Linked DNA regions of Homo sapiens. The protein of the gene in region 4 interacts with the protein of the main gene of each other region in a pairwise test. Each region holds a gene or a part of one and is shown on either strand. Other genes may lie near its edges.

Region 1 (5,744 bases), on a different chromosome or scaffold from region 4:
GACATTATTTAGAAATTGTAGTCTTCTGGAAAAGTCACACATGCCTTTAATCGATCTTGTATTGAACAATCAGAATTTACCTCCTTACATCTCTGGAGTTCAATGAATTCTGTACTGAAGGGGAGAAATGCTGACATTATTGAGTAGACCTCTAAGTAAGCAAGGAAAAGATGGGTACAAATATCTAGTAAGCACACAGACAGACAAACCTTAAGTCGAACATAAAGGTAACTATGTGGGCATGTTGGGTAACTGGCTGAGGAGTCACAAAGAGCTAATAAAAAGGAAAATGAAATTTGTCTACCAAAAAAAAAATCAACCCATCAAAGATGCTGATAAAATCTTATTTCCACAAATTACTGAAAGGTATTGATTAGCCCTGTCTCACCTTTTCCATGGTATACCACCACCACCACCACAAAAAAACCCCACAAAACCCCAAAACCAACTCTTTTACATGCATATTGATCTCCTCATATACTAAAAAGGCTATTATATATGAACATACATATATACATGTATGTATATACATATACTCACATATTTTTACTAAGCTTTGAATTCACATTATCCTTCCCCAACTCTTCTAAACCTTTTTGCTCTGTGAATTTTTTGTTTTAAAGATTTGGCATGCCAAGTGATTCAAGAGAAAGACTGTACTCCTTTGTACAAGATTGTACCCAACTGTACTCCTCCTCAAATTTGCTCAGATGGAAGTTTTGACTTAAATACTCATATGTGTATAGTCTGTGTGTGATGGGGTTGGCAGTGGGGGAAAGAGGTATCATAGATAACTTTGAGAATTAAGAAAACAAACTTTTCTATATAGATATATAAAAAGAGCACCCTGACATGGGAAAATTACCTTTGGTTCTTGGTCTCTGAAAACACACTGTTGTGAAGTAACAGTTGTTGCATCAACAGAGGAACTTATTTTCTCTATGCTCTGGAGGACACTTCCTTTTCTAGCATAAATGACGGCTGTTACTTTTCTGGGGGCATTGTGTCCTGTACTAAATCCAACTGGAAAGATTGGATTTGTGAATAAAGTCTTACTCTGTTTTAAGTAGTTACTGGATTGGTTCATATGTGGATTTGTGGTAGAAGGAGATGGTTTCTCCACTTTATTCTTCTCTGCCCTTAGATTGGCCATGGAAGCAAGCTGGGTATTGGAAAGTGATTTTGTCTCCATCTGGGAAGATTTACTTTTAGCCAAAACAATATTTACAACCTCTCTGGATATTTCTGTGACTGGACTTGAACTCACTGTCTGTAACGTGTCTTTTCTTACTGGAGTATCAGGAGAAACAGAATTCTGTTGGTCAATTTGTGATGGCAGAACATCTGTCCCCTTTTTAGCCAACAGATAGACTTTCCCATTAAACATAACCAAAGCATTATCTTTAATAGGCATATTTTTGGATCGCGTCCCACTAGGATCGATGGTACTCAATGGTGGCATATTTATAGTATTATCTCCCAAATTTTTCCTATCTACAAAAGTTTTTAAAATCTTTGAAGCCACATTATTTGAAGACTTAACAGGAACAAGAGATGGCGTAAAAGGCTGTAGATTATCTTGGAAAATCCATTTCACTGGAGCAGCTTGAGAATGCTGACCACCTTTCAATTGTGTCTCTGTAGCAACATTCTTTGGAATTTGTGTGGTATTTAGTATTACTGGCTTTGCTATTTCTGTAACAGGTTTTGGGTAAATGTTTTGAAAGTTCTTGGTAACTACATTTTTCACTGTATTTACAGGAGATACATAAATAACGGTTGGCATTTGGGAGGCCTCAACCATTCCTGAGGTACTGGTGGTGGCAGTTGCAAGTATCTTTTGCTGCACTGAAGGAGGCAATGATGACGCTGGTACAGATTTCACTTCAGCATGGGCTGGAATCTGTAAATGATGCCCAGAAGGCAAAACTGGAGACTTCACAGTCACTGGAAGACTCTGGGTATTAACTACAATAAAAGATGAGTCTTTTTGTGTTGAGGGAGGAACAGCAAATGTTTGCATGGTGAGTCCATCAATTTTCACACCATGACTCTGAACTTTAGAAACTGATGAAGAAAAATTTCCAGTTCCCACAGAAGTAACTCTACCTTTTTCTGATGTATCTACTGTTCTTGTAAGAAAATAGTTTGAAGAACTGGCTGGCTGAAAAATGGGCAATTGAACTGATGCACTTGTGGAAGAGCTGGAAATCTGAGTCTGAAAAGTAACTTGAACTGGTTTTCCTGTATTCCCTTTCAAAGCATCAGACATGACTGAAGATTGAACTAGTGGTATAAGATTTCCAGAAGACTTAGGAATTGGAAGTAATTGCAGAAGATTTTTTCCATCCGAGCCAATCGTCTGAACTACTTGGTACATGCAGCCTGAAACACTTAAAAGAACATTGAGTAAATAAATACAACATACTACATGGTATATACATTTTATTTAAAAATAAATATTTGTAAATATTTGTAAATATTAAAATAAAGTATATAATTTTCCATTTTGAGTTTTTAAAGTGAAAGACTGCAAAACAAATATTTTGAAGTAGAAGAGATAATGATATAGTCAACTGCTTATATGATTAGGCAATGGGTATGAGATAATAACATTTATTCCTAAGACTAAAAGTAGACATTTCTAAGGTTTTGCCCTATATAAAATTATACTACTAAAGTAAGCTCCTCTTAAAATATTAGCATCCTCCCTTCCCCCTTTCCCTGAATTCCTTCCTCTTGTCCTCCTCCTCTACTCTAACTGAAGATTCTCATTCCCTCTCCCCTTACTCTTATTCCATTTCTCTCTTTTCCCCCTCAATCTGTTCTGTCTTCTTCCTTCAATAACTCACAAGTTCTGCCAGCCATTCTTCTTTTGCCTAAGCTATCTCTCATGGTGTTACCTTAGTTTGCCACATTTTTGTGCTATAGATTTCACTGAACTGTTTACATAGGAATCATTTTCTTCTGATTACTGTTTCAGCACATTTGAGGTTTAGTGCTACATAGTCTCTGGTATAGCAATTATTTATATTAGTCAATTGTCAATCACCTATCAACCCATACATATAATACCACTGCAATTTCAGCTGAATGGTTTTCAATCAATGTGGAACAGACTGGAAATCAATTTTTTTTAACTGAATCAATTCTGACCCCCATGCCTTGAATTATTTCTTAGTATAGACTGTCTAATCTTAAGAAAAATCAATATATACTAATCTCTGTTTGCATAATTAGTTATTTGGAGATTACTTGAATGTAAATACCTTACCTTATTTATATCTAAAACATTTTTCAGCTCCTGGGAAATATTGAGCTTTCATGTCACACATACTATCACTCTACCTAGGTACGCCTCACCCAACTCAACTCTTCACATAGCTCAAGTCTTGGCATAAATGATATTTCTCAAGAGATACATTTTCTGACCACTTTATCCTTGTCTTTCCTTCATAATTAATCCATAACATTATGCTTGTTAGCTTCCTTCATGGTATATATCATAGATTGTCATCATATATTAATATGTTTGTCTATAGACTGTCTCTCATATTATATTCTACCAATATGAGTGCAGCATCCATATACCATAGACCTAGCATGGTCTTAGATAACTAAGATCAAATAAATACAAAAGTTCAAGGGCAAATAATAACGATAATAATTAGGATTCTCAAAAGCATAAAGGTATGTTTTTAAAACTCTCAGGTATTAATAAAAATCAATACCCAAAATTCTATGTATCCGTAGAAATTTGGTTTACCTTTCTGCAGCCCGAATAACATTATTATATCCTTACAAAAATTTAAAAGTCTTTTGGACACGTGAGAGTGGGTCAAAATATTACATTGACATTTTGTTATTGTTGCTGTTGAGACAGGGCCCGGCTCTGTCATCCAGACTGGAGTGTAGGTGTACAATCTTGGCTCACTGCAATCTCCACCTCCTGGGCTCAAGCTATCCTTCTACCTCAGCTTCTCAAGTAGCTGAGACCACAGATGCACGCCACCAAACCCGGCTAATTTTTGTATTTTTTATAGAGGCAAAGTTTTGCTATGTTGTCCAGGCTGGTCACACACTGACTTTTAATAAATTAAAAGTTAACTTCTAAAGAGAATAAACCCAAAGAAAAGGATGAATTCTTGCTTTCAGGGTTTTAAGAGGAAAAATCTACCTTTATTACCTCCCTGCACCACAAGAAAAGCACATTTGACCTGGATAAGAACATATTCAATATTAAGTCATTACACAAAAATTTACCAAGTGTCTGTTTTAAGTTAAGCACCAGGCTCATCAGGAAAAAAGGGTCAGTAAGCTGTAGCCTCTGGGCCTAATCTGGCCCACTCTGTTTCTGTGCATTCTTATATTTTAATTGATTTTTAAAAATCAAAAGAGTAACAGTAGCCTCTGTAGTGGCTCCTCAGTCTTCTTTGCCAACTCATACTTTTGAATCAACTTTCAAATGTTGGGAGTTTACCAAAGCTTAGAAAGAATCCTTCTCTTCCTATTCTGTACTCTTTTGTTAGATGCTTTCTTCTCAATGCATAACTTCAATTAAATTATCACTTACGCATGAACAATTTCAATATTTCTATCTGTGGCTTCTTTGAAATTTAGGCTTATACATCCAAATTCCCTTTTAACATTTTCATTCAGAATCTCAAACGTTCCTAAAATTCAACATGGCCAGCAGATCTCTGCCCATCCTAATCCCCCCAAGTTCCATCTTCTGCAGGGTTTTCTTTGCTAAATAGCATCTCATCTACCTTAGGTGCCTTAAGTCAGAATAGATAAATCCTCCTTTCTTATTCCTTATATTCAGTGATCACAAAATCCTGTTGATATTGTCTCCTAAATTTCCTTTCATCTGTTCAATTCTCTCCAAATCAACTGTTACCACTCTACTCCAAGCAAACATCATCTCTGGCTTAGAATACTACAATAGCTTCATGACTGATTTTTTTCTCCAATCATATCTTCTACCTTTCAATTTACTCAGCACACTAAAACTGATCTTTCCCTGCTTAAAACATTGCAGTGGCCTTCCATTATTCTTAGAGTCGTAGGAAGAAAACCATTGCTTCTGATGCAATGTTAAGCCAAAGGAACAGAGGATTTTAAGAAAATTGGGCAATTATACTAAAAGTTTCTGAGATGCCAAATAGGATAAGGATTAAAAATGTACACTGAAAACAGTGCTGTGAAGATCACTGATGGCTTTAATAAGAGCAGTGTGGTAGGGGAAAGAAGTTGCTGAGGAGTGGGTATGAAGCAAGTAGACAACTCTTTTTAAACTTTGACTGTCAAGGGGAAGAGAACGACTGGCAGGAAGCTACAGGAATAAATGGAATCAAAGAAGGGATCTTTCCTTTTTCTTTGTTTAAGGTTAGATTAACCAGAACATATGTAAATACTCAAGTGAGCCAGTTCAGGGAAGAAACTGGTAATAAAGGAACAAAAGGGATACACAATGAGAAGGAGGCAGGAAATGGAAACCAGAGAGACAGGTGGAGGGACTCAACCTTAAAGAGAGCTGGAGACCTATCTCCTTCCATTGCAACACTGGAGGAGAGATTATGTGCATTTTCAGGTAAGCATACAACTTTGGGGTTAGGAGGCTGAGGTAATTCTCATTTAATGGGTTTTATTTTCTTTATGAAAAATCACATGACATCATCTGCTAAAAGTAAGAGCAAAAATATGGAAAGATTTGAGGATAATCAAAGATTGGAACAGTCTTC
Region 2 (2,745 bases), on a different chromosome or scaffold from region 4:
CTCATTAAGCAAAGGCCCTCCAAGTCTCCTTTTTACTTCAGCACTTTGGAAACTCTCCAAGACTTAACTTCCGATCTGGGGAGGTTCTACGTGGAGCAGACCTATCCCTTCTTATTCCTGTTCCTGGGTGTCTCCATAATCAGCCTCTACCTTCCCTGGCATAAGTCATATCTGTTATGCTGCAGGAACTGAGTAACCAAAGCTAGATATCCCTTGGACCACTGATTAGTGACACATTTTCTCCACAACAAAGGGAGGTTAAAGACAAAGGTTTAACCTGAGAAACTTTTTTTTTGGCAAGATAATAAAGAGGTTAAAGAGGCTACGTGGATCTGTCACTGCTTTAGCTTACCATTTTCAATTCAGCACCAAAGTGCTCAGAAAGACAGGCTCAGATCAGGACGACTTCTTAAAGGGATTCACAGGCAATATTACTGGCAAAATGATTTTCCAAAGCTGAGCCACGCGCCCCACCCTACAGGGAGGGGAGTAGAATCTTATGGCCCAGCATTGGCATTGAGGCATCTTGCTTTTTTTCCTCAGAATTCCACAAAGGCTTAAGAGTGATCTAAATGCCTGGCTGGAAGCTCAAGTCTAGGAGAGCTATTTTACTGCACTGTTGAGATGTTCTCTGCAAGGTAGTCACAGATAATAAGCAATTTAGTAGATAATTATTCTATACAAGAATTAATGTTCTCTGAAACAGTGATTAATAGAATCTTCACATCTGGCCTGGCTGGGAGGCTTGGGGGCAGGAAAGGGAGGGTGGAAGGATGGGTAGCACATCAAAATGGTGATGAACCTGGCAAAACGACAATGCTGCTGTTTTTGTATCCTTTAAAGCCTATATCCAGGGTTTTAAATGACGCTTTTTTTGTGTGCTTCCTGATAGGAAGTCAAATAAGTTTTAGTATTAAGAACTGGGGATATAAACCAAAGGAAACCTAGAGTCAACTGACTGCTGGAGGAACAGAAGCAATGACTTCTTTCCACCTTCTAGATAGTAATCTTACTTTTGTTGGCTAAAAGCACTTTCTTCAGCATTCTGAGTTAACACGGGTTCCCTATAAGCTCCCCTCCCCAGGTGGACAGTCTTATTTTCTAAGACAAGCTCAAAGCTCAAACTCACCAAATTACCACTATAAACAAAGCTTCAGGGAAGAGACATAACCTTACTTCAAAAGCTTCAGGTCAGAGACAGCCAAAATCATGTGACTGCTAGCCTCAGCTCAAGTAGTGTGCCCAAATCATCACAAAATGGGATTCCCTTCCCTTTTCTTTTTTTTTTTTTTTTTTTTGAGACGGAGTCTTGCTCTGTCGCCTAGGCTGCAGTGCAGTGGCGGGATCTCGGCTCACTGCAACATCCACCTCCTGGGTTCAAGCGATTCTCCTGCCTCAGCCTCCCGAGTAGCTGGGACTACAGGAGCGTGCCACTACACCTGGCTAATTTTTGTATTTTTAGTAGAGATGGGGTTTCACCATATTGGTCAGGCTGGTCTTGAACTCCTGACCTTGTGATCCACCCGCCTCGGCCTCCCAAAGTGCTGGGATTACAGGCGTGAGCCACCATGACCAGCCCTCCATTTATTAATTTATAAGGGGACTAGAAGGACAAACTATTTGATTAATTTGAAGGTGAGAGGTATCATTTTCTCAGATGCTCCAACTAGGCTTCTCACATCCCTCAAAGGTTATCAGCTAAAGACAAGAGTTTCTGAGGCTAATGCAAAAACATGGTCAAATGTGAAACCGCCCTTTTAGAGGCAGGGTTTGTGAAAGGCTGCTGGCCTCCAAAGGAGAGTATGCCTAAACTCTCTGGGCTCCCAGGACCTGTGGTGACCTCAAGCTAACCTGATGCACAGACAACAGTATCTTTTAGGGACTGCAGCCAATGTTCCCCAATTTACTTTTTTTTTATACCTTAAAATATCAAATGTTTCATTTTTAGGTGATATCCCAAGTGACACAGAAACACAGCTCCTCCGGATGGTGAAGTCTCCGCTGCAAAACTCACGAAACAGCACAGAGGATGACTCTAGGGTGCTCTCCCACTTGCTCCAAGTTAGGCAGGTGCCCTGATGGAGGCAAGGCTGAGCCATTAACATGCACAGCTCCATATCCTGGAAGCCTCTGTAGCCTTGAGGAGATAGGCTCTATCCAACAGGACTCAGAATAAATGACTGCCACCTCAACTGAGCAGTATGAACTGCCCACCTCAACTGGGCAGTCTGACCTCTTCCACAGTCTTTAAGAAACAGAAGAGCCATTTGCATTATTTAATCACCATTCAATAATCTCCTCCCTCCCCATAGCTGCTTGAGTTAACTGTCCCACAAGTGTCCTGTGTTTTGTAAAGATGAGGGTTATTTTCTGAAATGCAGATGGGACTAGGATGAAGCTGTATTATCAATTACAGAGACAGCCAACTCTCATTTCTCTTAAAGCAAAAATTCATTCCACTGTGATTTCTCCAGGTATTTCCTGCAATTCTAAATCCGCCCTTGATATTAGAGAATATTAAAATCACACAGTTGTGGCAAAAATCACATTGTGGCTATTAAATCCTTTTTGTGAACTAAAAAAAGTGAATGTGGCTTAGGCTAAGCTGTTTTTTTTTTTTTTTTTTTAAAGATGAGGATGCGGACTCCAACAAAGGCATTAAGAAAGTACTAGATGAAAATGAGAAATATGTGAAGGATAACATGTGAAATGTACACTCAGGTCTAACAAATACCTATTATTTCT
Region 3 (5,744 bases), on a different chromosome or scaffold from region 4:
GTTGGGCCACTGTACTCCAACCTGGGCAACAGAGTGAGACTCTGTCTCAAAAATAAAAAATAAAAATAAAGGCTATGGGCCGGGCGTGGTGGCTCACGCCTGTAATCCCAGCACTTTGGGAGGCTGAGGTGGGTGGATCACAAGGTCAGGAGATCGAGACCATCCTGGCTAACACGGTGAAACCCCGTCTCTACTAAAAATATAAAAAATTAGCTGGGCACGGTGGCGGGCGCCTATAGTCCCAGCTACTTGGGAGGCTGAGGCAGGAGAATGGCATGAACCTGGGAGGCGGAGCTTGCAGTGAACCAAGATCGTGCCACTGCACTCCAGCCTGGGCGACAGAGCGAGACTCTGTCTCAAAAAAAAAAAAAAAAAAAGGCTATGAAACAATGGTGAAGACACCTGTTGGATCTAATTTAACTTAGGGTGTACAAACTGATTTTATTAAAATTTCAAAAAAATTGAATTTTAAGCTTTTAACAGGGGAGGCAAATCTTGTTATCTGATGAGAAATGTGTTTGGGGAAGAGCTGGTCTGTCTCCACTGCTGCCTCCTCTCTCTCACCTTCTTCCCCTACTGCCCTACTGAAACTTCTCTCAAAAGGCATTAGTGAGGGGCCTCCGAATTGCCAAATCCCAAGCCCTCTTAGTCTTTAGCATATTTGACACCATTGGCACATTTCATTCTAAAAATCTCTCCCCTCTAGCTTCTGTGATATACTCTGGGTATTTTCTCTCTCTGGCTTTCCTTAGTCCTTTTTATTCTTGCTCTGTAAATTCCATGACTTTTTTTTTTTTTTTTTTTTGAGACGGAGTCTTGCTCTGTCGCCCAGGCTGGAGTGCAGTGGTGCAATCTCGGCTCACTGCAAGCTCCACCTCCCGGGTTCACGCCATTCTCCTGCCTCAGCCTCCCAAGTAGCTGGGACTACAGGTGCCCGCCACCACGCCCAGCTAATTTTTTGTATTTTTTAGTAGAGACGGGGTTTCACCGTGTTAGCCAGGATGGTCTCGATCTCCTGACCTCGTGATCCGCCCACCTCGGCCTCCCAGAATGCTGGGATTACAGGAGTGAAAATTTCATAACTTTCGACTATCACTCTCAACCCCTTCTTTGAAGCTCCAGTCTCATATTCCATGTGACTAGCAGGGATCACCTGGGTCCCCCATATGCACCTTAAACTTAGTCCAGTCCAAAGTAAGCTTCGCATTTCCTTTCCCCAGACTTCCAAAACCTATACCACCCCCTTCATTCTGCAACTCAGTTAACAGCATAACTCCCTACCCCAGTCACTTAGGTTGGAAACCTCAGTCATTTGATTCCTTCTTGACCCCTTCACTGTCTCCCTCTCCGCCAGCTTATACAGGGGGCTAGACCTGCAAATTCTGTCTCTGTAATAGCCCTTATGCTCCTATTTTCTCTTCATTTTCATTTTCACTGCCCTAATCGAGGCCCTCATTGAACCTTTCCTTTGGAACTTTACATATATCCTCTACACAATCAGCAGGATTTTCTTGCTGAAACACAGTTGATCATTGCTCTCCTGCTTAAAATCCTTCAAAGGCTGTTCACTTACAGAATAAAATAAAATTACGTAGCATTTTAGCTATGCTGGACAACACGTTGTTCTATTACATACCACTCCTTTCCCTGTGTCTGTGTTTTTTGCTTATGCTCATCTGTTTGGATTTTTTTTCCTCCTGACAGAATTGTACTTAGGCCTCAAAGCCTAATTCAAAAGGTCACTTCCTTCCCTAAGCCTAACCTACCTCCCAATAATATTTAATGGTAATTTCCTCTGTGATTACCCCTATAGAATAACGTAGCAGTTATGTTATTTAAGGGTAACATAAAGGGTATTTAACCCATTATGTTATGCTGTTTGTGTTGTATATGTCTCTGCTCTCAAAGGCTGTGAGCTCTATGAGGACAGGAACTATCTTAATCAATTGTGTATTCCTAGCACCCCATACAAGTGCCTGGAATATAGCTACAATCAATAAATGTTTGTAAATTGAATTGAATTGAAGGGACATTACAACATTGTAGTATAAATCACTTTGTAGCCTGAGATTGATCACTACTGCAAATACTAAAAGTGGAAGAACATATACCTTTACTATTCAGTAGAATAGTTTTATGGTTAAATCAATAGCATCGTGTAACATGTGATGATGTGCGTTTATGCATTTATCCAAATATTTGTAAGTTTAATACTGACCACGATGTATATGGCTATTGAAGAAAACCACACATAATATGTGTGTGAGGTTTGAAACTAGCTCTGTTGCCTAGGGCTGTCTTTGTGCCTTGCCAGAATGTGGACCGTGGCATGATCGGCCTGAATATTTAGCCATCCTCATGATAGCATGTGGAATAACTGGTTTACAGTTCATTCGTTTCATACATACTCTGCCTAGCATGTAAAATTAACTGGAAACTGAGGAATTGGAGCCAAAGTTAGAAAATGAGGAGAGTTCAACTTGAACCATCAGGAAACAGGCTGATTACATGAAGGTCTTTTTGTTTGTTTGTTTTTAACATAATAAATAGAGATGGGGTTTCACCATGTTGCCCAGGCTGGTCTCAAACTTGTGGGCTCAAGCAATCCTCCTGCCTCAGCCTCCCGAAGTGCTGGGATTACAGGCCTGAGCCACCATGCCCATCCTATATTTTTTTTCAGGCAATATCCTTTTGTGCTCAAGAAATTAAGACACACACCCCACCACAAACTACATTTGAAGACTCTGCCAAAAAAATGCCATGTTTTTTCTCATTTTCTTTCATCAGTAATTAATGATACCAAGAACACTTATATGCATGGTTTATAGCAGTTGGCTATGGTCAAAAAAAGTTGGGCTTCCCCTCTGAGACATTTGCAGATATATGTCCTAGGTATACCATCAGTGGCAAATAATGCTTATCTTAAGATCTAATCTCACAGGGCATGCTGGGCTCACGCCTGTAATCCCAGCACTTTGGGAGGCCAAGGCAGGAGGATGGCTTGAGGCCAGGAGTTTAAGACCAACCTGGGCAACATGGCAGGACCCTGTCTCTACAAAAAATAAAAAAAGTTAGCCAGGCATGGTGGCTTACACTTGTGGTCCCAGCTGCGCAGGAGGCTGAGGCAGAAGGATCACTTGAGCACTAGAGGTGGAGGTTGCAGTGAGCTGAGATTGGAGTGCCAGTGGACTCCAGCCTGGGTGACAGAGCAAGACTCTGTCTCAGAAAACAAAAAAAAAAAAAAAAAAAACTAACCGCCCCTTCCCTCTAGAAATATTCTAAAAGAAGGCTTATGATATGAATTTGAGATTCCTAACTATAAAGTAATAGTTATGTGCTTCAAATGATACATAACAATACAGGGACTCAAGGGCAATGTGCCTAGATTCTTAAGAGAATGGAAATCAGTTTAACATATATTGGTAATCTGGGCCGGCGCGGTGGCTCACGCCTGTAATCCCAGCACTTTGGGAGGCCGAGGCGGGCGGATCACGAGGTCAGGAGATCGAGACCATCCCGGCTAACACGGTGAAACCCTGTCTCTACTAAAAATACAAAAAATTAGCTGGGCGTGGTGGCAGGCATCTGTAGTCCCAGCTACTCGGGAGGCTGGGGCAGGAGAATGGCGTGAACTCAGGAGGCGGAGCTTGCAGTGAGCCGAGATCACGCCACTGCACTTCAGCCTGGGCGACAGAGCAAGACTCCATCTCAAAGAAAAAAGAAAAAAAAAAACATATATTGGTAACCTGAACACAGTGATCCCCCTCAGCAGTATTAGAGAGTAGCCTCAGCGTCTCCCTGCTGAAGTTGTCTTATATAAGAATCAAATAAGGCTTTATTTATACTTCTGACAACAAGACTGGAACCCCCTTCTCTTGCTGTAACAGCCAATCCTATCCACTTATGATTCCAATTATAGTGTCATAAGTTAGAGAATCATAGGAATGTAAAGAGAGAAAGCTGTAAGAGCATGGCTTAAGACTCAGAATGTTTTGTTGCTTCTTTAAGGCAAGAACTCCCCTGGAGCAGGAAATTTTCAACCTCCTCCATAAGAACAAGCAGCCAGTGACAGACCCTTTACTGACCCCTGTGGAAAAGGCCTCTCTCCGAGCCATGAGCCTAGAAGAGGTAAGTGTGTCATAGGCCCTTCAGCACACCCAGGCATGCCACGCTTCTCCTAGCATTTGTCCTCTGGCCCAGGTGTCACTGTAAGTCTCATTTGTTGTAGGCAAAGATGCGACGAGCAGAGCTTCAGAGGGCTCGGGCTCTGCAGTCCTACTATGAGGCCAAGGCTCGAAGAGAGAAGAAAATCAAAAGTAAAAAGTAAGGAGGCCCCTGTGAACTGGCCTTGGGTTCCACAGAAGAAAGTCATGTGGTTCATCATGAATTCTTTGGAGAGAACCTTTGATGCAGCAACTAGAGTCATGCAGATGAGGTCCCAAACAGGAGTGACTAGCCTTTTGTTCCCCCCAAACCAACCTCATACAGTTTTGCCAAAAAGATGACTATTCAGTTACTTTCTCTGCCTTCCAAGGCATCACAGAGTGGTTCTGCAGAATCAGCTCTGAATTCCAGAGCTGTTAAGGCCAATAGGGCTTCCTTCCTGCCTTTTTGCCTCTTTGAAACTTGTTCGGCCGGGTGTGGTGGCTATGCTTGTAATCCCAGCACTTTGGGAGGCCGAGGTGGATGGACCACTTGAGCTCAGGAGTTCAAGACCAGCCTGGGCAACATGGCAAAACTGGCTGGGCACGGTGGCTCACACCTGTAATCCCAGCACTTTGGGAGGCTCAGGCAGGTGGATCACTTGAGGTAAGGAATTCAAGACCAGCCTGGCCAACATGGCGAAACCCCATCTCTACTAAAAGTACAAAAATTAGCCAGGCATGGTAATGTGCACCTATAGTCCCAGCTACTTAGGAGGCTGAGGCGGGAGGATCGCTTGAGCCCAGCGGGTGGAGGCTGCAGTGAGCCAAGATCATGTCACTGCACTCCAGCCTGAGTGACAGAGTGAGACCCTGTCTAAAAAAAAAAATGAAACTTGTTCTACCCCTCCCTTGAGTTATAGAGGCAAAGGAGACTCTTTGAGCTGCAGAGGTCCACCCTGAGGACTGTGGGTACCAAGAATCTTGCCAGTCCTGTCAGGTCCCAAACTGACTCCCTATAGCCAACTAGCTCTATGATGCCCATTCCAGCCCCCTGCCTAGGGAACCCATTGGGTAGTATGGGCACTTGTGCCTATGACATCCGTGCTTCAGCTAAATTGCTAAACTCTTCCCTCCTACCCCTACAGGTATCACAAAGTCGTGAAGAAAGGAAAGGCCAAGAAAGCCCTAAAAGAGTTTGAGCAGCTGCGGAAGGTTAATCCAGCTGCAGCACTAGAAGAACTGGAAAAAATTGAAAAGGCCAGAATGATGGTGAGACTACCTCTTGCCCCACCCCCACCCCTTTGAACCAGCTTTCCTTGGAAGGCACTAAAGATGTAAATCTCACTCTGTCCTTTCTTTCTAGGAAAGAATGAGCCTTAAGCACCAAAACAGTGGGAAATGGGCCAAGTCAAAGGCAATTATGGCCAAATATGACCTGGAGGTAAGAGACCCTTGGGGTGAGAGAAGATCTGGAATTGGAGGATGCTAGCAGAAGCAGAGTTGGGGAAGAGCCATGAGGATGGATGGAAAACCAGGAATCTAAAAAGGCATCAGAAAAATCTCTAAGGCAGAAAGGAAAATGACCAGGAACAAGGTGGA
Region 4 (6,008 bases):
CCTGCTCTGGGTCAGGCACTGTGCTGGGTCTACAGAAATAGGAAGGGAGGGTTCGGGAGAAGACAGACGGTGAGAAGTATCTGGAGTAGTGATAGGAAGTAAAACGACGCAAATTTCATTGATTTCTGCCGTGTACATCTTTTCATTGTCACATATCTGAAATCAGGATGCCTTTTAAAACAGATTGCTCTTGCCCCAGATTCTTCCAGAGGGGATTTACTTTTGACTCTGCTATCACTTGAGTACATTTCTGAGACCATTGAAAGTTAAATTCTCTGCTTGAGGTTTTCCCCTGCCTCCTGCCTAGTAGTGTGAATTCAGACAGCAACCCTGTAAGACTGAACTTTTTTCTTCTTTACGTCAGGGCCAGGTGCATGCAAGCTTTTGTACTGCCCCTTACTGCATGGCATATTTATTTATTCTTTACTTTGTACTGAGAATGTTGCTCTTTGATACCCCAGTGGTGGGATCAGAACTCACTGCAGCCTCAAACTCCTGCTGGGCTCAAGTGATCCTCCCACCTCAGCCTCCTGAGGAGCTGAGATGACAGGCGTGCACCACCATGCCTGGCTAATTTTTTTAAACTTTTTTTTTTTTTAATAGCCTCGCTATATCACCCAGGCTGGTCTCAAACTCCTGGCTTCAAGTGATCCTCCCACCTTGGCCTCCCGAGAAACCCCAGTTTTGAATGGAGATCTCTATTAGACCTCTCATTTTAGGGTTTTTCATTTTTAGAGATACGTAAAACTATGGTGTATCTTAGAATTGATGGCATCTTAGGGTTCTGTGATATAATAGTTTGTGGCAGGCCAGGTGTGGTGACTGAAGCCTGTAGACCCAGCTACTCAGGAGGCCGAGGGGGAAGAATCACTTGAGCACAGGAGCTTGAGCTGATCATAGCTGCAGTGAGCTGTGATTGCACCACTGTACTCCAGCATGAACAGCAGAGTGAGACCCCATCTTTTTTTATTGTTGTTGAGATGAAGTCTCACTCCATCACCCAGGCTGGAGTGCAGTGGCACAATCTTGGCTCACCGTAACCTCTGCCTCTGAGCTTCAAGCGATTCTCCTGCCTCTGCCTCCCAAGTAGCTGGGATTACAGGCACCCGCCACCATGCCCGGCTAATTTTTGTATTTTTAGTAGAGATGGGGTTTCACCATGTTGGCCAGGCTGGTCTCAAACTCCTGACCTCAAGTGATCCACCCACCTCAGCCTCCCAAAGTGCTGAGATTACAGGCATGAGCCACCATGCCTGGCCTAGACCCCATCTCTTAAAGTTTGTGGCAGGGCTGCAGTACTCAAACCATAAAGAAGTGGCCTATGGAAATGAGCTTTAAGCCACATTCCATGAACCGAAGGGCCTCTGAGCTGGGAGTGGATAGTGGGCACAGCCAGCCCCAGCTCTCCCTCTCAGTTGAGCCAAAGCATCTGTGCTCATTTGTTTTTAGATTTCTTAAAGGATTTCATTTGAAAGAAAAAAGAAACAAGTCCATGAGACCACTGTCCTGTGAACGTGAACTACTTTCTATTTGGGTAGGTAGGAAGAAGTGAGGATAGTTGCAAAGTTATAATTTCATTCCCCTTCCCCACCCAGAAAAATAGAACTGAGAGTCTTAAAACATGGAATCTGGCTGTAGCTTGGCCACAGTTACCTATGTCTCTTTAGCATAGCCTCCTGGATCTCAGCTTTATCTCTAAGAAAATGATATAGATTAGTCACATGGTCCTTCTAATTGCCTGAAATCCCACTATAAATTTCTAGCACCTGTCACGCAATAGGTACTTAAGAAATGTTGGTGATGGTGTTTGAACTGAGGCTCCACTCTGATGAAACTGTAAAGCTCACCTTCCAGCCTGGTAGGTTGTCACCTGTGTAATATAAAGCTGGTTCTTTGAGGGCAAAAGGGGATTCTACTTGAATGTAGCTGCAGCCTTATGTACAGCAACTACCATAATGCAGTTTGTATACCGCAGGCCCCATGTGGAGACACATACTGGATGGGTTCTTTCTCGTATGTTACATGGGAATGCCGACAGCTGTGTTTTAATTGTGTTTGACCTATGTTTTCGTTGTAGGGAAGCAGAAATGAGAAACAGTATCTTAGCCCAAGTTCTGGATCAGTCGGCCCGGGCCAGGTGTAAGCATCTTTGATTTCATTTCCATAAAGTTAGCTTGAGTTAGTTGAATGGGGTGATTAGATACCATTATTGCTATCACTAGATGAAATATTTGCTTAGGCTGAAAACACTTGAGATGTGTAAGAAGTGTGAAGTTTATAAACCTAGAGAACTGTACTTTAATCCCTAGTAAAAGTACCAGGTCACTTCTCTTACCAAGATGTTCTCCAGGTGTGTATTAGGTAAGATTTATAGGAAACAACTCATAGGGCCAATCACAAAATGTTGCTGGTAGTTGACATTTTGTGTCAACTGGTGATGGGGACTGGGGATGGGGGACTTAGGGGCTTTTTATATGTATTGTCAGTTTTAGTGTATGTTCAGAGTTGTTCATCATAAAAACCAAAACCTGTAGAAAGAAAAAATGAGACAGTCAGAATGAACTGGTATTTTCTGTATTTTAACTGGAAGCCCAGTTTGAGTGTAGAAAAGGCGGCCACAGGTGGATCACCACCATTATGTGTAATAGATAAACCGCTTTCCAGAGGGCAGTCATATATTTTAAGAAACAGGAAGCATGGTGCTTAGAATCTGAGAACCCAACTTTAATCTTGGCTGGGCCACTACCCCCATGTGCCCATGTGGAGATTGGCATGGGTGAACTTCAGTTTTCTCATTTTTAAGAGGAGTAACAATACTGTCTTGCCCTACACTGAGGGACAAGCTTGTGAAGTGCTTTGGAAAGGTCAATGCATAGTTTTAAGGTATAACATAAGTGCATTTGATTTTAATGGATTTTTTGCATATGTATTTTTTCTTTTTAGTAAGTAACTTAGCACTTGTAAAGCCTGAAAAAACTAAAGCAGTAGAGAATTACCTTATACAGATGGCAAGATATGGACAACTAAGTGAGAAGGTAAGCTTAGACAGCCTTGAGGAACTTTACTGTTACCTGCTTTATCAAAACATGGCTTCAAAAGGTCAGCTGCATCTTCACTGGATTACAGAATTCTTGCTGACTCTCAGAAGAAATTGTTGGAGAGAATAGTCATACCTACTTTAAAAGAGAATAAATTGCCTTTCCTAAATTCCTCTGCTTCGCTCCTTTCCTGGCGTTGCTCTGGAACCTTGTTGGTGTCTGTGACCCAATGACTGTTAGGGTCAGCTAGCTTCAATTGCCCCTGCACTGGAAGCAAGGTTTGTCAGTAACACCAATTAAAATACTACCAGTGTAAGTAGAAGGTGTGTTTTGCAGATGAGAAGGTGCTAAGATGCCTTGCTTATGTTCTCTGTGTTGCTGTAATACCATGAGGGGTATGTTGTGGCAAACCTGGCCTTTGAGATCAAGACGAACCCCACCTGCCCTGAGAAGCCGTCTGCTACCACCACAGCCTACCCGAATTGGTCCTGTCCCCTAAACCCCTCACACTGAGAACTGCTTGTGTGGGAGAGAGCTGGTTGGGTTGATCTTTTCCGAGTGTGACTTACCTCCTTCAAGGGGATGTTTAAGCTTCTCGGGCAGAAGTGGTGTGTCTATTCCTGACACCAAACACCGTGGTATATGTGGTTGTCACACTCAGCTAGTGATGATAAAGGTGTTCTTAAATATGTTAGCTTTCAGTTTTCCTGAGGAAGCAATTTTATGGATACTTCCCCCTCCTTCTCAAGTGAGGAATAGCAGAGCAAATTTTATTTGGAACTTAAACCAATAGTTATAACCAATAGTTTCAACCTCCTGCCTCACCACTGCTTCCTTCCTGAGCTCTTTCCCCACACCTCAAAAAGAGTACAAAGTGATTCCATCTGCAGAGGTAAATTCTTTGTTTAAAAAAGTACTGTTTTTCTTATCTTTTCTGGTTCTCCTAGGTATCAGAACAAGGTTTAATAGAAATCCTTAAAAAAGTAAGCCAACAAACAGAAAAGACAACAACAGTGAAAGTAAGTGTCCCCAGATGCTTGTGGCAAATGAAAAGATGGATACTTTAAAGATTAATGTTGAGTATACATCTACCACACATATTTTTCAGCCCAGAGACATTTTCCTTTTGTCAAACACGTGAAAGTTTGGGGAGAAAGGCTGAATCTGTTGGGGGAGGGTTCTAATTTTTATAGGCTCTTGACTCCATTCCCACCCTTTTAGTTCACGCTAAGTTGCTTTAAAGACACAAATGTCTTGCTAAAATTGGTAGAAATCTTTTCTCGGAAAATCTGAGTTATGCTTTATTAGAAATGTTCTGACACTCATTTAATTTTCCTCCCAGTTCAACAGAAGAAAAGTAATGGACTCTGATGAAGATGACGATTATTGAACTACAAGTGCTCACAGACTAGAACTTAACGGAACAAGTCTAGGACAGAAGTTAAGATCTGATTATTTACTTTGTTTATTGTCTATATGCCTTTTAAAAAAATAAACTTGTTATGCAAAATAAAACATTTGGGTAAGTTGTTTTAGTATCATAGCCAAGTGGCCAGATCTGTGTTTTGAATTTTTCCCCTTCCTACCAAAAGCTTTTTTTATTTTTATTTTTGTTATTATACTTTAAGTTTTAGGGTACATGTGCACAATGTGCAGGTTAGTTACATATGTATACATGTGCCATGCTGGTGCGCTGCACCCACTAACTTGTCATCTAGCATTAGGTATATCTCCCAATGCTATCCCTCCCCCCTCCCCCCACCCCACAAGAGTCCCCAGAGTGTGATGTTCCCCTTCCTGTGTCCATGTGTTCTCATTGTTCAGTTCCCACCTATGAGTGAGAATATGCGGTGTTTGGTTTTTTGTTCTTGCGATAGTTTACTGAGAATGATGATTTCCAATTTCATCCATGTCCCTACAAAGGACATGAACTCATCATTTTTTATGGCTGCATAGTATTCCATGGTGTATATGTGCCACATTTTCTTAATCCAGTCTATCATTGTGGGACATTTGGGTTGGTTCCAAGTCTTCGCTATTGTGAATAGTGCCGCAATAAACATACATGTGCATGTGTCTATATAGCAGCATGATTTATAGTCCTTTGGGTATATACCCAGTAATGGGATGGCTGGGTCAAATGGTATTTCTAGTTCTAGATCCCTGAGGAATTGCCACACTGACTTCCACAATGGTCGAACTAGTTTACAGTCCCACCAACAGTGTAATAGTGTTCCTATTTCTCCACATCCTCTCCAGCACCTGTTGTTTCCTGACTTTTTAATGATTGCTATTCTAACCGGTGTGAGATGATATCTCATTGTGGTTTTGATTTGCATTTCTCTGATGGCCAGTGATGGTCAGCATTTTTTCATGTGTTTTTTGGCTGCATAAATGTCTTCTTTTGAGAAGTGTCTGTTCATGTCCTTCGCCCACTTTTTGATGGGGTTGTTTGTTTTTTTCTTGTAAATTTGTTGGAGTTCACTGTAGATTGTGGATATTAGCCCTTTGTCAGATGAGTAGGTTGTGAAAATTTTCTCCCATTTTGTGGGTTGCCCGTTCACTCTGATGGTAGTTTCTTTTGCTGTGCAGAAGCTCTTTAGTTTAATTAGATCCCATTTGTCAATTTTGGCTTTTGTTGCCATTGCTTTTGGTGTTTTAGACATGAAGTCCTTGCCCATGCCTATGTCCTGAATGGTAATGCCTAGGTTTTCTTCTAGGATTTTTATGGTTTTAGGTCTAACGTTTAAGTCTTTAATCCATCTTGAATTGATTTTTGTATAAGGTGTAAGGAAGGGATCCAGTTTCAGCTTTTTACATATGGCTAGCCAGTTTTCCCAGCACCATTTATTAAATAGGGAATCCTTTCCCCATTGCTTGTTTTTCTCAGGTTTGTCAAAGATCAAATAGTTGTAGATATGCGTCATTATTTCTGAGGGCTCTGTTCTGTTCCATTGATCTATATCTCTG
Region 5 (5,744 bases), on a different chromosome or scaffold from region 4:
TTGGAGATTGTTTTAAAATATATTTTAACATCATCTTTATTTGGGTGTAATTTACATACAATAAAATACATCCATTTTAAGTGCACATTAAGGTATAAAAGTGTTCATGAATTTTGACAAATGTGTATGCTGTGTTACTACTGCAATTAAGATACTGAACATTTTCATTATCTGATAAATTTCTCCCCATCTCAGTCAGTATGACCTCAGCTAGCCATCTGTAGTCTATTTCTGGACTCTTCTATTCCATTGATCTTAGAAACTTAGTAGTTTTTCACCAAAACTACTGCCCACTAAAACCAATTGTTTAGGCCTAAGTTTACTGTTGCTTTAGCTTTCCAAGATAAATCAACTTGAAAATAGAGAACAGGAAAGAGCATGAACCTAAATAATCTGTAAACTGTTTGTCTAACTCCTGAACAATGATAGGATAACCCCTATTGCAGTAAATACCTCAAGGTACAATATTTTAAAATGCTTATATGCTAGACTCATATATGTCTATCCTTGTGCCAGTACCACACTATCTTGATTACTGTGGCTTTGTAGTAAGTCTTGAAGTCAGGCATTGTAAGTCCTCCAACTTTTTTTTCTTCGTTTTTTTTAGGATCGTTGCATTTTAAATGCATTTCCATGTATAACTTAAAATCAGGTTGTCAATTTCTACCAAAAGCCTGCTGGGATGTTCACTGGAATTGTATTGAATCTAGAGATCAATTTGGGAGAATTGACATCTTAACAATGCCGAGTCTTCAGTGTATGAATATGATACACTTCTCTATCTTTATTTCTCTCAACAGTGTTGTTTGATTTTCATTGCACAGACCTTGCACAAAGAAATATAACTTATATTGACCTTTCGTCTTCTGACTGCAGTAAATTCACTTTAATTCCAGCATCTTTTTTGTTGATTCCTTAGAAATTTTTGCATACACAATCATGTCATTTGTGGATAAAGACAGTTTTACTCATTCCTTTCTGATCTATATGCCTTTATGTTTCTTTTTGTTACACAGGCTGGTACCTCAACTACAGTGTTGAAAGTGGTGTGGAGGGACATCCTGTCCTTACTCTTAATTTTTTGGGGAAAGCATTCAGTCTTTTACCATTAAGTATGATGTTAGCTGTAAGTTTTTTTTATATTCTTAATATGTTTTCATAAACCTACCAAGTTGAGGCACTTCTCTACCCCTGGTTAGGCGAGAGGATTTTTTTTTTTAAATCATGAATGGGTGTTGAATTTTGTCAAGTATTTTCTGCAGTTATGGAGATGCTCATATGATTTTCTTCCTTTATTTTGTGACATAGCTAATAACGTTGTTTTTGTTTTGTTTTGTTTGGGAGACAGGGCCTCACTCCCTCACAGTGGCTTTGTTACAGACTGGCTTTGTACTGTAGTCCCCCCTTATCTGTGATTTCAGTTACCTGTGGTCAACTGCATTCTGAAAATACTAAATGGGAAATTCTGGAAATAAATAATTCATAAGTTTTAAATTGCACTCTGTTCTAAGTAAAGCACTGATGAAATCTTGTGCCGTCCTGCCCAGGATGGGAATCATCCCTTTGTCAAGTGTGTTGATGTTACATATGCTATCTACCGTTAATCGTTTAGTGACCATCCTGGTTACCAGATTGACTGTTGCAGCATGGCAGTAATTGTCACTGTGTTGCAGAACACAGTAATTGTGTCAAGTAGCGCTTATTTTACTTAATAGTAGCCCCAAAGCACAAGAGTAATGATGCTGGCAATTCGGATATGACAAAGAGAAACCATAAAATGCTTCCTTTAAGTGAAAAGGTGAAAGTTCTTAACAAGGAAAGGAAAGAAAATTGTATGCTGAGGTTGCTAAGATCTACAGTACCATCTACAGTACAGCACAAGATATTTTGAGAGAAAGACCACATTTACATAACTTTTGTTATAGTATATTGTTTTAATTCTATGTTATTGTTATTGTTCCTAATCTCTTACTGTGTCTTATTAATAAATTAAACTTTATCATAGGTAAGTATGTATAGGAAAAAACATAGTATAAATAGGATTCAGTACTACCTGTGGTTTTAGGCATCCACTGCGCTTTATGGAATGTCTCGCCTGTGTATAAGGGGGCACTACCATATAGAGAAAGATCTTTACTAGTCAGCTTGACTGCAGATTCTAGGGGCTTCGTAAGCCTTTTCTGTGGATGTGTCTTCCCTGGACTTGTGATTATAAATTTCCAAGCCGAGAGATTTGGTCAGTTTTTTCATTAGCTGCTGTTTTTCTCTCTCATGTGTCTGTCCATGGTATTGCAGGTTCTCCAGAGTTGCTGTAAGCCATCAGCCTCTTTTTTTGTTTTCAGCTGCCCTCAAGCATCTAAAGTATGCTGATCCAAAGCACCCCAAGTTGAGTGAGACAGAAACCATTCCCTTAGGCAGTCCTTTGAAAAGTTCAAATGTTGGTCACACACTCCACTATTCTCTCCCAGCCTCCCCTCCCAAGATAAGCCGCAGAGCTATATCAGCCTCTGTCTGCTCTATGGGTCCTGTGGATCAGTAGCAAGCAACCCAGCTTTTTTTTATTCTTAGCAGTCCCCAGTCACCTAGAACATGCAGGGTTCATGCTTAGTGGGGTGAGACAGAAGCCAGTCCTCTGGCCAGCTCTTGGAAAAGCTAGAACATTGGACCGTGTTTCCCTTCTTTCTCTCCCCAGGCAGAAAGTTGGGGGTTTCTCTTCCTTGCTGAGCCTGGGGGAGGCACACTGGCCAGTGAGTGTGGTACTAGTCCAGACCTTTGCTTTTGTTCTCAGTGGCCCTCAACCTGGTTCCCTTTTCTGTCAGTGTATAGATTCAGGCAGCTCAGAAACCAGTTTCTCAAGTAGCCCCCGCAATGTAAGTGCTAGTCTTCTGTTTCTCTCCCTAGGGATACATGTTGTTTGCTCACTTCTTCATGACTTATAGCTGTCACTTATGCCATTCTTTAAGAGGAAGTCAGTGGAGGGAAGTTTCAGTAATGATGATTTTTTATTTTATGAGCACTTTTTTTTCACTTGTGAAGTCTCAGTATTCAGTAGGCCTCTTCTACTAAACACCAGTTGTCACAAGTCCCGTCATGTCTAAAATTTGCTCTGGGTCTTTAGTGTTTTAATGACACAAAACCCCCAGGGCTGTAGTGGAAGCCAGGTCTGTCATGTTCTGGTATCATCTTGGATTGACTAGAATTGGTGATCCAGAATCCTAGGTATTTATTGTTGCTTCTTAGATTTTTCATGATTTATCATTTTTAAATCACTTTATTTTGTTTTGTTCTGTTTAGGTTTTTGGATATGAGTAATAAACACTACATTTGTAGTTCTGCAGGTACAAAGGTGTGAGTGGGGTGCCTTGGCAGAATGCAGGTCAATTAAATTGATCCAAATTTGTGCTATTAAAGAGTATTTTGGGGGCGAGAGGGAGCAGACTTACTCCAACCCATAAAACACCATTAAGTGAGAAATGGTCTTGCTAATAGACTAATATGCCCAAGTGCCAATTTTCTTTGCACTTGCTATAATTTTTCTCACTTCATAATGGAAGATGATCAAAATATTTAGCAATTGGCTGGCTTTCAAACATCAAAAGAGTCTAGCATCTTAATAGTAAAAAGGAAATTTCTAAAACTTAAATGAATCCTTGTCATGTGAAATCTTAAGGACTTTATGAAAGAAGGAACTTTTTAGAAAGAAACATCTAAAGTGTCCAGTTAAAAGCAAAAACCAGTGTGAAAAGAACAGGAGGTCCAAGAAAGCTGAAAAGGTTGGCATCTGCCTCCAGTTCTAATGTTAAGGGACAGTTAGTTGGTAAGAGAATAACATCCCTCCAACTAAAGACTAGCATTTCAGAATTTCCAGAAGTGCAGCTCTGCATAATTATATCTCCCTTTTGTGTGTGTAGCTATTTCTCTTCTCCTCTGCCTTGTTTCACAGTGCTACTTCATGAGAATATAAAAGAAGATAAACACGTTTATTATTTGCCTAATAGAATCTTATGTTGTCTCTTGAATTAGCAAAGGTTTCGTAAGGGGAACATTTCATATTTCAGTTTGTTTTAAAAAATGAAATAAAATTGCTTTTTACTTCTACACAAGCTTTGATTAATTTTTTTTGAGTCAAAATCCACAAAAGGAAAAAAAAAAAAGATTGCTGGCCAAGCTTTAAAATAGTGGTAATTTATCAGTGTCCACAAGCCAATTATTTTATCTAGGATCTTGCTTGGGATTAGAGATGCCCCCTCTCCCAAGGCTTGGATATTTCTGTGAAACTACTCTTTAATTCATTGTTGTTATTGTACCTTCCTCCACTCTGCCCACACATCTTTTTTGGGCTCTCTTGGATGGAAAGACAAATTTCATAGGTGATTTAAATGAAGCCCTCTGGGAATACATGAATTCAAAACTCTTCAGCTGTTCTTCTTTGAATGGAAGGGTTGTCATAGTTGCCCACTAGAGAATAAATTATGCTGGTCTGCAGCTTACCAGTACATATTTGGTAGTAGTCTAGTAGAGTGAAATTAAGCCTAGGGCTTGATCTACTTAGGACTCCATATCTGGTTCTCCTCATTTCAAAAGAAAAGAAGAGGAAAGATATACAAGATTATGCAGAAGAGAAAGCAGTAGCCTTATTATAAATACTAATTTAAAAGGTACATGTGACCTTATTAATTAAATGTTATTTATTGATGTATACATAATATATATAATGTATACTTATATAGGTACAATTACATATATAATAATGTATACACTATATTGTATAAGTATACATTATATAACTATACATAGTACATATTTATATAAGTATACATTATAGTATAAATGTACAGTATATATTTATTATAAACAAATGTTTATAGATATAGTCAGTCCCTGACTTACCATGATTTGACTTAGGATTTTTCAACTTTACGATGGTGTGAAAGCGATACACATTCAGTAGAAACCATACTTTGAATTTTGAATTTTGATCTTTTCCCAGGCTAGAGATAGGTATATTAAATACATTTTGGCTTATGATATTTTCAATTTATGATGGGTTTATCGGGATGTAATCCCATGTTAAGTCAAGGAGCATCTGTAATTTTTAATAATTAATATATTAAGAGTCTGGACTCTGGTGCTTTCCTTTGCCACATATTAGTTCCATTATCTTTGGCAAGTTGGCTGAGCCCTGTGCTTCATTTTTCTTCTTGTCAAATGTGACTAACATTGGTACCAACCTCAGGGTTGCTGTGAGGATCGAAAGAGTTAATACATGTAAAGTGCTTAGAACAGAGCACATACTAAGTGCAGTGTTTATTTGAACCACATGAAATTGCCAATATTTGTCCATTTTTGACTTAACCAAAAATGTCAGTTTCATATAATTCAACTTAATAGTGACAACTTATTAATTTTTTAAAAATTGTTGCCATTGTTGAATCAATATTACATATTAAGAATGTGATTTACTGACCAAAATCCATTGAATCACTATGACTGGGGATACAGCCTGGGAAACTAAGTTAAAACCAGCATAAATCTCCCTAGGTGACTGAGCTGAGCAGCTAGGTTTTAGGATTTCTTGACTTACAGTATTGCTCAGGAGACTTCTTATAGTATAAAGAGAACAGCATTGATAATTAAGAGAATGAGTCTGGACAGGAATTTTTGCCTCAGGATGATTCATACCTTGAGTCTCATCCATATCTGATTTAGGTGATATTTAGATGAGACTTTAGATTTTAGACTTT
Region 6 (5,521 bases), on a different chromosome or scaffold from region 4:
GATACTTCTTTTACCTGGAGGATGGCCTAAGTCCTAGTTGCCTGACCTGACTGGGGGTCCCTCACATGGGAAACTTGTTTATACTGGCAGATGCCCTTGTGGCTCTTGTCTGATCCATGTCCAGTTTATGCCTGCCTGACCATCACTTTGGCACTGGGAGTTCAACCTTGTGCTCTCCCTGGTGTCCCCTGGTTCTTCAGATGGAAAGCACAAATTCAGTACATCACCACAATAGGAAATAAGTTCAAAGATTTTCACTTACAGATCCTGGGCAAGGAGGGCATAATGAGTCAGGAGGGCAGTCCTCTGTCCCCAGGTCATATGAGGCAGAAAGGAAGAGCCAGAGAGAAAGTGTGTCTAGCAGCATGTCTAAGGGAATGGAGTGTGGGCCACTTTAATAGGCAAATGTCTAAATGGTCCATTTAAAGAGAGGCAGGAAAGCAGGGAGTGCAGTCCGCAAGGCAGGAGAGATCCCTCTAAGTTCTTGTCACTGGCCACCAGCTTGAGCCATCTGGGTGTAATGTAGAACTGGAAATTGTGCCAAAGATGACTGAGCCCTGCTTTGGTATGAGAAAGTTAAACTTGTATTCAAAATGGATGCTGAGCAACATAAAATTGTAAGAATTCTCTATATATCTCCGACATCAATCCAGCACCAAAAGTTTTATTCTAATATTCCCCCTTTCTGGGAAAGGCAAAATAATAGAAACAAAATCCAGATCAGTGGTTGCTCAGGGCTGTATGAAGGAATTTTTGGCATGATAGGGCTGTTCTGCATGGTACAGTAGTGATGGGTATACAATGCTATGCATATGTCAACACCTACACAATTCTACAAAGAGTGAATTTACTGTATGCAAATAGGAAAAACATCCAGGATGTTGGAAGAATCCAACATGGGATACAGATTGTGACAAATGAATCTAAACTGTATTAAAATTATTCACTTGGTAAACTATCACTCCTGCAATCCTAGCGACTCAGGAGGCTGAGATGGGAAGGTGGTTTGAGGCCAGGGTTCCAGTGTAGCCTGGGCAACACAGTGAGATCCTATCTCCAAACAAAAAAAAAAAAAAAAAAAAAAAAAGAAAAGAAAAAGAAAAAAAGCTAGGCATTGCCATGCATGCCTTTAGTCCCAGATACTGGGGAGACTGAGGTAGGAGGATCTCTTGAGCCCAGGAGTTCGAGGCTGCAGTGAGCTATGAGTATGCCACTGCACTCCAGCCTGGGTGATAAAGTGAGACCCCCAACTCTTAAAAAACAAAACAAAAACCCACCACAGTGAAGGGGGTAGAGAAGAAGGAACTGGCTTTAGTGACTTTGGAAAACAGTGTGTTGACTGAATAAGTAAGATTGGGGATGAAAAGAATGATAAAAATGCTGTACTTTAGTTAGAAATCTGTTTCTCCTAGGTATGTGGATTAGCAATTCTGAAGCAAATTTTCATGTATACTAGAGTTAAATTAGTGCCTGTATTGTGGCTAATGAGTGTCAGGTTTCTCAATGTCAAAGAAAATACAAACAAACATTTTGGGAATTTTTATATTAAAAATTTACAGTTATAAAAACCAAATCACATTTAGTTATATATTTAATGAATCATTTTTATTGCAAAGGGTAAATTACATGAAATTGACAAAATTTAGTCCATGTAATATCTATCAAAATACATACATGTAAGTGTGTGTATATTTATATATGTATACAGTACAGTTTTCACAAAAAGCTTCAACATTCCTAAGAAACACAGACATAGTCATTCTGGTACAATATGGATTTAAAATAAGTTCATGGTAATCCTTCCTGATGCCAATTTTAAAATGAAGACCGTCTAAATTTTTCTGACCAGTTATTAGTTGCCCTGCCTCTCGGAAATGTGTTTAAACTTTTCTTTCAATTATTTGATACCTTTTGCCCAAGAGATTACTATCTCTCTCTTTTTTTTTTTTCTTTTAAGACAGAGTGTTGCTCTGTCACTCAGGTTGGAGTGCAGTGGCACAATTCCTGATCACTGCAACCTCTGCCTCCCAGGCTCAAACGATCCTCCCACCTCAGCCTCCCCAGTAGCTGGGACCACAGGCACATACCACCAAGCTTGGCTGTTTTCTTTTCTTTTTGTATTTTTAGTAGAGTTGGGCTCTTGCCATATTACCCAGGCTGGTCTTGAATTCCTGAGCTCAAATGATCCACCTGCCTCGGCCTCCCAAAGTTCTGGGATTACAGGTATGAGCCAGCATGTCCGGCCTGAGATTACTCTCTCTTATAAGAAGTTTCATAAGTTTTTCCACTGAGGAAAGTGATGCTTGTTTGATTTCCTCTAAATTTACTTCTTCACATTCGAAAGGAGACTCTTTTCTTCCTTAGAACTTGAAGATTCAGTGTGAAAGGGCATTTTTCTTTCTTATATTATTAAAAAAGTTACTTTTTAAAAAGTAACATTTTTATTTTTATTTTATTTATTCATTTTTGTGAGACGGAGTCTTGCTCTGTTGCCAGGCTGGTGCAGTGGTGCAATCTCAGCTCACTGCAACCTCTACCTCCTGGGTTCAAACGATTCTCCTGCCTCAGCCTCCTAGTAGCTGGGAGTAGAGGTGCGTGCCACCATGCCCAGCTATTTTTGTATTTTTAGTAGAGACAGGGTTTCACCATGTTGGCCAGGATGGTCTTGATCTCTTGACCTCATGATCTGCCTGCCTTGGCCTCCCAAAGTGCTGAGATTACAGGCATAAGCTACCGTGCACAGCCAACATTTTTATATTTTATATAGAGATGGGGTCTTGCTACATTGCCCAGGCTGGTCTCAAACTCCTGGGCTCAAGCAGTCCTCCTGCCTTGGCCTCCAAAGTGCTAGAATTACATGCATGAGCCACTGTGTCTGGCCAAAAATGTTAGTTTTCACGTTTATAGCATGCAAAGTGTTATTCTCTTCCACTTTAATTCACAAAGGCTCTTTATGTCTTCCCACTTTTATCACTCTTAATGAACCCACCCTGTATCTACTAAAATTCTGGAGGAGTCATGGGCAGAATTACAGAAGAATTCTGGTCATATGACAGTTTCATAAAAGGACAATATCATAATGTGCAAGTTCTAGTAAAATGCAAATCTTATCTTGTTTCACCAGCTTACTATTTAGGCTTTTTTTTTTTTTTTTTTTGGCCTATTCTGACTTTGGATCTTAACTATTTTCAACTATCTTTTTGCTTGTAGAGGCATTCTTTGGTTCCTAAGAGGTATTAAAGTGAGGGATTACTAACGGTGAAGCTACTTTGGCATGCAGGATGCTGCTGTGTACATATATACTAGTGTATATGAATATAAACCCTTGTCTTTTTTTTTTTTAATAAAAGTGAGTTTTCATCTGAGGTGCTTGGAATGATTCACAAACAACTTGGCACACTCTTCTGGCCTGTTTACCCCCATTGAAATGTTATTTTATAAATTACATCTTAATTCACAGAATTTTTTCTTGATAGTATAAGAAATTCTCAAATATTTTCTATAGGGGCACACAACTTTCTATTTAAATGTCTAAGAACTAAATTTTCTGTCGCCTTCCGAAATCCTATTCTTAAAATTAAAAATATAGGAAAGCACAAATGTTTCCTTCATTAGGTCAATTTTTTCACTAATTTCTTCATTTAAAAAGTGAATTCTTTTCCTGTTTTTCCTCATTTCATCCAATAGTTTCCATTTCTACTAACATGGTGTGGCAGAAAGAACATGGGTTTTGGAACTAGATAAACCTGAGTTTGAATTTTGATTCTGTCACTGTAGGTAGCTATGTGGCCTTGGCTCAGTTTCTCATCTCTAAAGTGGAGACAAAAATACCCATGGTTTGGGTGGCTGGTCAGATTAAATAAAAAATATATGCACAAAATTTGGTACATGGTAGGCATTCAACATGTTAATGCATTTCTCACTACATCAAGTGTTTCAAAACTAATTCTATGGAGGAACCAAAATTTAGTAGTGTTATTAATAAAAGGCCACATGTTTTCTTAAAACTCTTAATTTCTAATTTTGATTCATCACTTTTTTTTTTTTTTTTTTGAGGCTGGGTCTCACACTGTCACCCAGGCTGGTGTGCAGTGGCGAAACACAGCTCACTGCAGCCTCAACCTCCCAGGTTGAAGTAATCCTCCTGGGCTCAAGTAATCCTCCCGCCTCAGCACCCCAAGTAGCTGGGACTACAGGTGCATGCCACCATGCCTGGTTAATTTTTGTATTTTTTGTAGAGACAGGGTTGCCCAGGCTGGTCACGAACTCCTGAGCTCAAGCCATCTGTCTACCTCGGCCTGCAAAGTGCTGGGATTACAGGCATAAGCCAACGGCCCTGGCTTGATTCATGGCATTTTAATGAAAAATTTCATGTTTTTTCGGTATGCCAAAGTGCCATGTATGAAATATGAAATTTGGAAGAATCGATGTAATTGTACAGCCATAGGAAGGCCTCCCTTCACCATACAAAAAGGTAACCTTTGCTCTATTGCTGCCACCAAGGGCCATTTTGTGGGATGTGGTAACTTTAAGAATATTTATTACAATTAAAAAAATCAAAATATGCCATACTTCATAAACATCTTATCAGTAAGTTAGAGGTTTAATAAAGAGGTTCAATAAACAGAAATTTTATTTAACATATATTTCAACATGAAATCTATAAATTGCAAAGGAGCACTGTGAATTCTTTGGAAAAACGTTTGTTTGCTCTACTCACAAGCTTCATCCTTGTGGCATGTATTCAGAGCTAGGTTATGTCCTGCTTTTTGTTTAGGCAGGCATAATGTCTTTCATGGTATTCTCAGAACTCTGTTAAACTTCACTGCTTTGTTAAATGTCACTGCTCTGTTAAACTTCACTGCTCACAAAATCTGAGTTAGGACAAATGTTCATGGGGGTTGTTGCTCACATGTTTTCCTATGGCTGGTTTTCACAAAACGGTATGCATCTAGTCCTAGGGAAGTACATGAAAGGTCTTCTTAGACGGATTCTGCTGGAATTATCTCTTGTCTCTGCAGCTGCTGGTTCTATCTTCTCTCTTCTCCTGGAAATCAGAAAGAAGAAACAAGCATGCAAACACATGCCAAAACACTGCAGCTACAAACTAGGCTGACATGTCAAATAGTGGCATATTCAACACATCCTGACATCATTCTCCCAGGTAATGAGTTTAAGATTGCAGAGGACTTTATAGATTATTTACCTCAACCCTTACATTATGTTCATCAGTACCTTTCTACTCTAAAAGGTAAAATTCCCACTTTGAAAATGTGCAGTTTTACAATATCATTAAAAATTCAGGTTTCAGGCTGGGCACAGTGGCTAACGCCTGTAATCCCAGCACTTTGGGAGGCCGAGGCAGGCGGATCACGAAGTCGGGAGTTCGAGACCTGCCTGGCCAACATGGTAAAACCCTGTCTCTACTGAAAATACAAAAATTAGCTGTGTGTGCTGGCACGTGCCTGTAATCCCAGCTGCTCGGGAGGCTGAGGCAGGAGAATCCCTTGAACCTGGGAGG

The links.
Region 1: the proteins of PDCD5 (region 4) and LRIF1 interact in a two-hybrid assay, tested with the Homo sapiens proteins (one large-scale study listed by BioGRID).
Region 2: the proteins of PDCD5 (region 4) and NUDT3 interact in a two-hybrid assay, tested with the Homo sapiens proteins (one large-scale study listed by BioGRID and IntAct).
Region 3: the proteins of PDCD5 (region 4) and UTP14A interact in a two-hybrid assay, tested with the Homo sapiens proteins (one large-scale study listed by BioGRID and IntAct).
Region 5: the proteins of PDCD5 (region 4) and RAD18 interact in binary tests that used the Homo sapiens proteins (3 or more experiments, as listed by UniProt).
Region 6: the proteins of PDCD5 (region 4) and CEP126 interact in a two-hybrid assay, tested with the Homo sapiens proteins (one large-scale study listed by BioGRID and IntAct).

What each region holds. Positions count from the first base shown.
Region 1 is NC_000001.11:110,950,423-110,956,166, forward strand, and holds part of LRIF1 (ligand-dependent nuclear receptor-interacting factor 1), read right to left. Parts: intron 2,394-5,744; coding exon 866-2,393; intron 1-865. UniProt on the Homo sapiens protein: Together with SMCHD1, involved in chromosome X inactivation in females by promoting the compaction of heterochromatin.
Region 2 is NC_000006.12:34,281,925-34,284,669, forward strand, and holds part of NUDT3 (diphosphoinositol polyphosphate phosphohydrolase 1), read right to left. Parts: 3' UTR 1-2,745. UniProt on the Homo sapiens protein: Cleaves a beta-phosphate from the diphosphate groups in PP-InsP5 (diphosphoinositol pentakisphosphate) and [PP]2-InsP4 (bisdiphosphoinositol tetrakisphosphate), suggesting that it may play a role in signal transduction.
Region 3 is NC_000023.11:129,915,167-129,920,910, forward strand, and holds part of UTP14A (U3 small nucleolar RNA-associated protein 14 homolog A), read left to right. Parts: intron 1-4,008; coding exon 4,009-4,128; intron 4,129-4,228; coding exon 4,229-4,323; intron 4,324-5,290; coding exon 5,291-5,414; intron 5,415-5,508; coding exon 5,509-5,586; intron 5,587-5,636; exon of another isoform or gene 5,637-5,744. UniProt on the Homo sapiens protein: May be required for ribosome biogenesis.
Region 4 is NC_000019.10:32,582,873-32,588,880, forward strand, and holds the end of PDCD5 (programmed cell death protein 5), read left to right. Parts: intron 1-2,077; coding exon 2,078-2,139; intron 2,140-2,943; coding exon 2,944-3,035; coding exon of another isoform or gene 3,036-3,167; exon of another isoform or gene 3,168-3,985; coding exon 3,986-4,057; intron 4,058-4,380; coding exon 4,381-4,428; 3' UTR 4,429-4,581; downstream 4,582-6,008. UniProt on the Homo sapiens protein: May function in the process of apoptosis.
Region 5 is NC_000003.12:8,952,226-8,957,969, reverse strand, and holds part of RAD18 (E3 ubiquitin-protein ligase RAD18), read left to right. Parts: intron 1-5,744. UniProt on the Homo sapiens protein: E3 ubiquitin-protein ligase involved in postreplication repair of UV-damaged DNA. Postreplication repair functions in gap-filling of a daughter strand on replication of damaged DNA.
Region 6 is NC_000011.10:101,997,125-102,002,645, reverse strand, and holds the end of CEP126 (centrosomal protein of 126 kDa), read right to left. Parts: intron 5,048-5,521; coding exon 5,003-5,047; 3' UTR 1,584-5,002; downstream 1-1,583. UniProt on the Homo sapiens protein: Participates in cytokinesis. Necessary for microtubules and mitotic spindle organization. Involved in primary cilium formation.